Linked DNA regions of Homo sapiens: regions 1 and 2 are each linked to region 3. The links come from fine-mapping of genetic effects on gene expression. A gene starts in region 3. Each other region holds a variant in brackets. All regions are shown on one strand. Distances are from middle to middle. Region 1 overlaps NPLOC4 (NPL4 homolog, ubiquitin recognition factor). Region 2 overlaps NPLOC4 (NPL4 homolog, ubiquitin recognition factor). Region 3 holds the start of PDE6G (phosphodiesterase 6G).

The links. PIP is the estimated chance that this variant, and not a neighbour inherited with it, causes the effect.
Region 1: its variant is the best candidate, but not a certain one, in a credible set for the expression of PDE6G in whole blood (INTERVAL, PIP 0.58).
Region 2: its variant is the best candidate, but not a certain one, in a credible set for the expression of PDE6G in whole blood (INTERVAL, PIP 0.63).

Annotation. Positions count from the first base shown.
Region 1 is chr17:81,623,147-81,625,899 of GRCh38, forward strand. All of the region lies in intron 2 of NPLOC4 (NPL4 homolog, ubiquitin recognition factor), which reads right to left. Among named protein-coding and RNA genes, the nearest start is that of NPLOC4, 13 kb to the right of the region's middle. The variant T/C (reference allele first, on the strand shown) is at 1,590.
Region 2 is chr17:81,617,616-81,620,368 of GRCh38, forward strand. The region is part of intron 3 of NPLOC4 (NPL4 homolog, ubiquitin recognition factor); the gene reads right to left. Among named protein-coding and RNA genes, the nearest start is that of NPLOC4, 18 kb to the right of the region's middle. RefSeq lists enhancers at 1,212-1,755, 1,756-2,299. The variant G/A (reference allele first, on the strand shown) is at 1,352.
Region 3 is chr17:81,655,243-81,657,995 of GRCh38, forward strand. It overlaps PDE6G (phosphodiesterase 6G), which reads right to left and starts at 1,300. Exons shown (of 4, transcript NM_002602.4): 1 at 1,251-1,300.

The DNA.
Region 1 (2,753 bases), 32 kb before region 3:
TCGTGCTATTCCACTCCAGCTTGGGCAACAAGAGCAAAACTCTGGCCGGGTGTGGAGGCTCACACCTGTAATCTCAGCACTATGGGAGGCCAAAGCAGGTGGATCACGAGGCCAGGAGTTCGACACCAGCCTGGTCAACATAGTGAAACCGTCTCTACTAAAAATACAAAAATTAGCCAGGCATGGTGGCGCACACCTGTAATCCCAGCTACCCGGGAGGCTGAGGCAGAACTGCTTGGGCCTGGGAGGTAGAGGCTGCAGTGAGTCGAGATCATGCCACTGCACTCCAGCCTGGGTGACAGAGCAAGACTTTGTTTCAAAAAAAAAAAAAAAAAAAAGCAAAACTCTGTCTCAAAAAAATAAAAAACCCGGCCGGGCGCGGTGGCTGACGCCTGTAATCCCAGCATTTTGGGAGGCCGAGGCAGGCGGATCATGAGGTCAGGAGATCGAGACCATCCTGGCTAACACGGTGAAACCCCGTCTCTACTAAAAATACAAAAAATTAGCCGGGCGTGGTGGTGGGCGCCTGCAGTCCCAGCTACTCGGGAGGCTGAGGCAGGAGAGTGGCGTGAACCCGGGAGGCGGAGCTTGCAGTGAGCCGAGATCGCGCCACTGCACTCCAGCCAGGACGACAGAGCGAGACTCCGTCTCAAAAAAAAAAACAAAACTCAATTCCAATTCTGAAACCTAACACAGAATGGTGCGACTAAATCATAAAACGTCCACTGTGCAGGGCACTTTGCTAGATGCTGGGAATATTCACTCATTCCTTCAACAAATATTAAGCAGTTCTATGTGCTCAGCTCCATTCTGGGTGTTCAGATCACAAAAATGAACTAGAAAAGACAAGGTTTCTGGCCGGGCGTGGTGGCTCATGTCTGCAATCCCAGCACTTCGGGAGGCCAAGGCGGGTGGATCACTTCAAGTCAGGAGTTCAAGACCAGCCTGACCAACATGGTGAAACCCCATCTCTCCTAAAAATACAAAAATTAGGCCAGGTGTGGTGACTCACGCCTGTAATCCCAGCACTCTGGGAGGCCGAGGTGGGCGGATCACGAGGTCAGGAGATCGAGGCCAGCCTGGCCACCTTGATGAAACCCCATTTCTACTAAAATACAAAAATTAGCTAGGCGTGGTGGCGGACACTTGTTATCCCAGCTACTCAGGAGGCTGCGGCAAGAGAATTGCTTGAAACCAGAAGGCAGAGGTTGCAGTGAGCCAAGATGGCGCCATTGCACTCCAGCCTGGGCGACAAGAGTGAAACTCCGTCTCAAAAAAACAAAAACAAAAACAAAGACAAAAATTAGCCAGGCATGGTGGTGCACGCCTACAGTCCCAGCTAGTCGGTGGGCTGAGACAGGAGAATCACTTCGACCTGGGAGGCGGAGCTGCAGTGAGATGAGATCACGCCATTACACTCTAGCCTGGGCAACGGAACAAGACTCCACCTCAAAAAAAGAAAAACAAAAAAAAGACAAGGTTCCTGCTGTCAAGCAGTTTACCAACAAATGGGGGAGACAAAGTCAACAAAGGTCGAAATAAGCACTACGACAGAAAAGGAAAAGAAACCTCAGATGGGAGGCTAGAAG[T/C]CTCTCTGAAGAGCTTCAGCTGAGCAGGGCCCACCCAGCGGTGGGTAAGCCCGCCACACGCGAGCTGGGAGAAAAGGCCACAGGGAGTAGGAGCAAGCACAAAGACCAGGAGGCAGGAAGGGTGTTGGAAACACGGAGGCCAGAGGCCAATAAACAATAAGGAAGATGGAAAGAGATGAGGCTGGCGAGGCAGACAGGGCCGTGGGAAGCCACACAGACGAAAGGCAGGGGGAATCATCATCCACAAAATCCCTGTTGCTCAACACCACACTGAAGAGGAAGCTAGAGTGCCAATTAGAGACAAGAGAGATGGGCTGAGACAGGGGATGAGATGGGACAGGATGGTGGGGATGAAGGCAAGAGCACACTTTCCAGCAGTGGTCATCACCAGGCCCAGCTGACGAGCAGGACCAGGGGCAGGAATGGAATGAGAGAAAGGAAGGAGGTCAGAGTAAAGCTGAGAATTCTAGATTGAGAAACTATGTGGAGGTAACACCTGTGCAGGGACCATGAAAGGAAAGGCTAAAAAAGGAAGAAGACTAGAGGGAAAATCAGGACTTCCATTTGACACTGAGATCGGAGGTGACAACCAGACACACTGCAGTGAAGCCGTCCAGCAGGCAGGTGGGCGCATCTGTGTCTGAGCCCAGGCAAGGGGCCAGAGCAAGAGCTCTACACCGAGGGGTCATCAGAGTAGATGTACCCAAATAAAAGGAATGTGAATCTCGGTAAAGAAACAAATCATAAAAGAACAATCAAATGGAAATTCTAGAACTGAAAAACACAAGAACAGAAATAAAAAATTCACTGAACGGGCTTATCAGCAGAAGGGAGAGAGCAGAAGAGTCAACCTAAACATAGGTGAATAGCTTGTGGTCCCAGCAACTCGGAAGGCTGAGGTGGAAGCACTGCTTGAGCCCAGAAGTTTAAGGCTACAATGAGATATGATCACACCACTGCACTCCAGCCTGAGCGACAGAGTGAGAATCCAACCAACTCTAAAAAGAAAAACATAAATGAATCAATAAAAATAACAGCTATATAATCTGAAGGCAGAGATTTGGGGAAAAAAAAAACAGCCTTAGGAACCCATGGTACAGGATCAAATGCTCCTCACTAGAAAAAAATGAGGGTTGGGCGCGGAGGTTCAAGCCTGTAATCCCA
Region 2 (2,753 bases), 38 kb before region 3:
TGGCTAACACGGTGAGATCCCGTCTCTATTAAAAACACAAAAAATGCCCCCCCTCCCCCTCCGTCTCTTTCCACGGTCTCCCTCTCATGCCGAGCCGAAGCTGGACTGTACTGCTGCCATCTCGGCTCACTGCAACCTCCCTGCCTGATTCTCCTGCCTCAGCCTGCCGAGTGCCTGCGATTGCAGGCGCGCGCCGCCACGCCTGACTGGTTTTCGTATTTTTTTGGTGGAGATGGGGTTTCGCTGTGTTGGCCGGGCTGGTCTCCAGCTCCTAACCAAGTGATCCGCCAGCCTCGGCCTCCCGAGGTGCCGGGATTGCAGACGGAGTCTCGTTCACTCAGTGCTCAATGGTGCCCAGGCTGGAGTGCAGTGGCGTGATCTCGGCTCGCTACAACCTCTACCTCCCAGCCGCCTGCCTTGGCCTCCCAAAGTGCCGAGACTGCAGCCTCTGCCCGGCCGCCACCCCGTCTGGGAAGTGAGGAGCCTCTCTGCCTGGCCGCCCATCGTCTGGGATGTGACGAGCCCCTCTGCCTGGCTGCCCAGTCTGGAAAGTGAGGAGCGTCTCTGCCCGGCCGCCATCCCATCTAGGAAGTGAGGAGCGCCTCTTTCCGGCCGCCATCCCATCTAGGAAGTGAGGAGCGTCTCTGCCCGGCCGCCCATCGTCTGAGATGTGGGGAGCGCCTCTGCCCCGCCGCCCCGTCTGGGATGTGAGGAGCGCCTCTGCCTGGCCGCGACCCCGTCTGGGAGGTGAGGAGCGTCTCTGCCTGGCCGCCCCGTCTGAGAAGTGAGGAGCCCCTCCGCCCCGCAGCCGCCCCGTCTGGGAAGTGAGGAGCGTCTCCGCCTGGCAGCCACCCCGTCCGGGAGGAAGGTGGGGGGTCAGCGACCCCGCCCGGCCAGCCGCCCCGTCCGGGAGGGAGGTGAGGGGTCAGTGCCCCCGCCCGGCCAGCCGCCCCGTCCGGGAGGGAGGTGGGGGGTCAGCCCCCGCCCAGCCAGCCGCCCGTCTGGGAGGTGAGGGGCGCCTCTGCCCGGCCGCCCCTACTGGGAAGTGAGGAGCCCCTCTGCCCGGCCACCACCCCGTCTGGGAGGTGTACCCAACAGCTCATTGAGAACGGGCCATGATGACAATGGCAGTTTTGTGGAATAGAAAAGGGGGAAAGGTGGGGAAAAGATTGAGAAATCGGATGGTTGCTGTGTCTGTGTAGAAGGAAGTAGACATGGGAGACTTTTCATTTTGTTCTGTACTAAGAAAAATTCTTCTGCCTTGGGATCCTGTTGATCTATGACCTTACCCCAACCCTGTGCTCTCTGAAACATGTGCTGTGTCCACTCAGGGTTAAATGGATTAAGGGCG[G/A]TGCAAGATGTGCTTTGTTAAACAGATGCTTGAAGGCAGCATGCTGGTTAAGAGTCATCACCACTCCCTAATCTCAAGTACCCAGGGACACAAACACTGCGGAAGGCCGCAGGGTCCTCTGCCTAGGAAAACCAGAGACCTTTGTTCACTTGTTTGGCTGCTGACCTTCCCTCCACTATTGTCCTATGACCCTGCCAAATCCCCCTCTGCGAGAAACACCCAAGAATGATCAATTAAAAAAAAAAAAAAAAACACAAAAAATTAGCCGGGCATGTTGGCGGGCGCCTGTAGTCCCAGCTATTCGGGAGGCTGAGGCAGGAGAATGGCATGAACCCGGGAGGTGGAGCTTGCAGTGAGCTGAAATCGCGCCACTGGACTCTAGCCTGGGCAACACAGTGAGACTCCGTCTCAAAAAACAAAAACAAAAACAAAATTAGCCGGGCGTGGTGGCACATGCCTGTAATCCCAGCTACTCGGGAGGCTAAGGCAGGAGAATCGCTTGAACCCGGGGGGGCAGAGGTTGTGGTGAGCTGAGACCATGCCACTGCACTCTAGCCTGGGCAACAAGAATGAAACTCTGTCTCAAGAAAAAAAAAAAAAAAGAAAGAAAAGAAAAGAAAAAAGGCGGGGTGCCAGGCGCAGTGGCTTACATCTGTAATGCCAACACTTTGGGAGGCTGAGGCGGGTGAATCACTTGAGGTCAAGAGATTGAGATCAGCCTGGCCAACACGGTGAAACCCTGTCTCTACTAAAAATACAAAAATTACCTGGGAATGGTGGTGGGCACCTGTAATCCCAGCTACTCAGGAGGCTGAGGCAGGAGAATCGCTTGAACCTGGGAGGCAGAGGTTGCAGTGAGCTGAGATTGCGCCACTGCACTCCAGCCTGGGCAACAGATTGAGACTCCGTCTCAAAAAAAAAAAAAAGGTGGGGGTACAGCACCCCATGGTCCTGCTGAGGGAATGGCCTGAGTCTGTCAGGCCTCTGTTTACCGCTTTGCATCGGCAGGAAATCCAGGACACAGAGGGTCATGCTGGAGGGTCTTGTGAATGTGAAATCAGCAAGACCTCAGAGGTGGGAAACTCTACAGGTCAATGGACCAAGTTCCTCAACAGATAAATTTCAAGAAAAGGGAAGAGATGGAAGGGGAACCTGAAGATTACAAGAAGTAAGACATACAAATTTCCTTAAAAAGCAAGACTAACTGGCAGTGTCTAGGGATAGACACTCAAGTAACGAAAGAATAAAGAGCCAGGCACGGTGGCTCACACCTGTAATCCCAGCACTTTGGAAGGCCAAGGCGGGTGGATCACGAGGTCAGGAATTCGAGACCAGCTTGGCCAACTTAGTGAAACCCCACCTCTACATAAAATAAAAAAATTAGCCAGGCATGGTGGCACGA
Region 3 (2,753 bases):
GGCGCCCCTGGGAAAGGGGCCTGTCTCAGAGACTTGGTGCTGAGCTGTGAAGCCCTGCGTTCCCCAACCCCACTTCATAGAGGGACAAGCTGGGGCTTGGGGACGGAGGGTGCCGGGCATGTGTTCCCCCTGCTGGGGGAATCACCAGGCCCTCTCTGTGTCTGGAGTCAGCTCGGGGAGCAGGGTCACCCGCCTGGCGTGGCGTGGCGTGGCTGAAGGGCCTCGGCCGCTCTGGACGAGATCAGTGTCCCTGCACTGCTGCACAGGGTGGCCTCTCCTCCTCCTCTCCCTACAGCCTCTCCCCAGATGCCCTAAGCCCCAGTGACCTGGGCCAAGGGCAGTTCAGCTTCCCCTAAGCCTATTAACAGCAGAGGGGAATTCCTAATCTCCCATCGAGCTGCTGTCAGCTGCACATGCTGCCGGAAAGTTCTGGAAGGAGGCACATGACACAGACAGGAGGGGCTGCTTGCCCGCACTGGATGCCCCAGGGACCACCTCTTGGGGTCCCCTTTCCTGCCCCTGGTCTTTTTGGCTGGGATTCCTGACTCCAGCCCTGGGCTACTACCAGCTGTTTGCCGAGCTTCAGGCGTGAGAGTGATCAGAAAGCAAGGGCAGGTGGCCCATTTTGGGGACGCGGGCTCTGCAAGGGGTGCTGGGCACCTGGGATTGGGGTGGACCCTGCCATGGCACCTTCCCTCACTAAGGTTCAGCCTCTGTCCCCGGGACTGGGACCAGCACCAGCCTGTGCAAAACCAGCACTCAGGAGCCCGGTGGTCCCAGCTGCTCAGATCCCATGGCACCCAATCCTCATATCCTAGATAGCACAGGCCCCGTCCAGCTGCTTCTCCAGCCCTGGGACATGGGCTGTCCTGGGCAGCTCTGGGCCCTGATGGAGCTCCAACCATCAGATGCCATCCATGTGGAAACCGCTGCCTGCGCTGCCCTGGCCCGACCCAGCCTGTGACTGGCGTCCACTCAGGTCAGCTGAGCCCACGTGGCCTGAGGTTCCCAGACCATCACTGGCCTGGGGATGGTGGAAGCACTGGTTACCATGGGGGAGCAGAGGAGGAGGTTGGCTGGGAGTCCCCTCTGAATAACAGGGTGGCGGGTAGGCATCTGCAGACCCAGACCTCAGCCACGGTGGTAAAAGCCTGTCAGCTCCCTCTGCCCCTTGGGTGATGAGCAGACCCCCACTGACTCACTGGGGGAAGTGGCTGCCAGGAAAGACAGCGGGGTTGGCCACTACTCACCAAGTGCAGGGCGGGTCTCAGGGGGCTGTGCTGTGAGTGCTGGGCCTCCCTCCGCAGGGTGCCAGCCCCGGCCTTTATCTCGCTGCTTCATGAGCTGATTAGGCGTCTCAGTGCCACCCTAATGAGATTGTTGGGCCCCGAGGGGGGGCACAACCACCAAGGTTCAGGGGATGGAGAGGAGGGGCTCAGGTGCTGTCAAGGGCTCCAAGGAAGGACACCCAGCAGATGGGGCCGGGACAGGGAGAGAAGTGTGACCCTGAACAGCCAGGCTCCTGCAGCTGCCCATCTTCCAGATGGAAGCAACCACAGTGTCTGCTGTCTTGGGCCTCCCTACTGCCTTTCCTGACCCTGCCTGATCTCTGAAGGGCCCACCTTCATGGTCCCCAAAACCCTCTGCAGCCTGGCCCTCACCCGCTGCTGTGGCCTCACATCTCACCCCTCCCACCCCAGGGCCTTTGCACCTGCTGCTCCTGAAACCAAACAAGGACCCCCCCCCGCCCTTAGGGGCCTGTGGGTCTTCCCAAGCACAGAAGCAAGGACAATGTTGAGTTCCTTCAAGGGCAAGCCAGGCCCCCAGCCAGCCCAGAGAAGGAAATGAGCAGCCGATCCACAGGAAGGTCACAAGAAGGTCACAGGAGCTTAGAACAACAGATGGAAGCCAGAGTCCCGAGAGTCTCCACAGAAGCAAACCATGCCATCTTAGCAGGTGCTCCTCAGTTGTTTTCCAGAAACAGGGACTCCCACCAAAGGGGCGTGCTGGCACACAGACCTCACATGAGCGGGAGCTGAGGACTGGCCTCTGACCACCCTTCTCTTACCTAAATTTCTTCCTGAGGGGCCTGGAGGAGGCTATGCCCATCCTGAGGGGCCTGGAGGAGGCCATGCCCACAACCCAGAGCTAACATTCTTTCCTGCGGATCCCAAAGTTTTAGACAAAGATTCGCTTCTGCACCAAATCAGAAAACCTTTGAATCCACCTATGACCCGTGGTCCCTGGCTTCAAGATCTCCTTGCTATTTATGGCAAAACCAGTGTACAACCTCCATGTACTGATTTATGACTTGCCTGTGACCTCTGCCTCTGCACCTTTAAAAACCCATAACTCAGGCCTGGTGTGGTGGCTCATGCCTGTAATCCCAGCACTTTGGGAGGCTGAGGCAGGTGGATCACAAGGTCAGGAGATCGAGACCATCCTTGCTAACATGGTGAAACCCCGACTCTACTAAAAATACAAAAAAATTAGCCGGGCGTGGTGGCATGTACCTGTAATCCCAGCTACTTGGGAGGCTGAGGCAGGAGAATGGCGTGAACCCGGGAGGCGGAGCTTGCAGTGAGCCGAGATCGCGCCACCGCACTAGAGCCTGGGCGACAGAGCGAGATTCTGTTTCAAATGAATAAATAAATAAATAAATAAATAAATAAAAACCCATAACTCGGCCGGGAGCAGTGGCTCTCAAACAGCGCTTTGGGAGGCTGAGGCAGGAGGATCACTTGAGGCCAGGA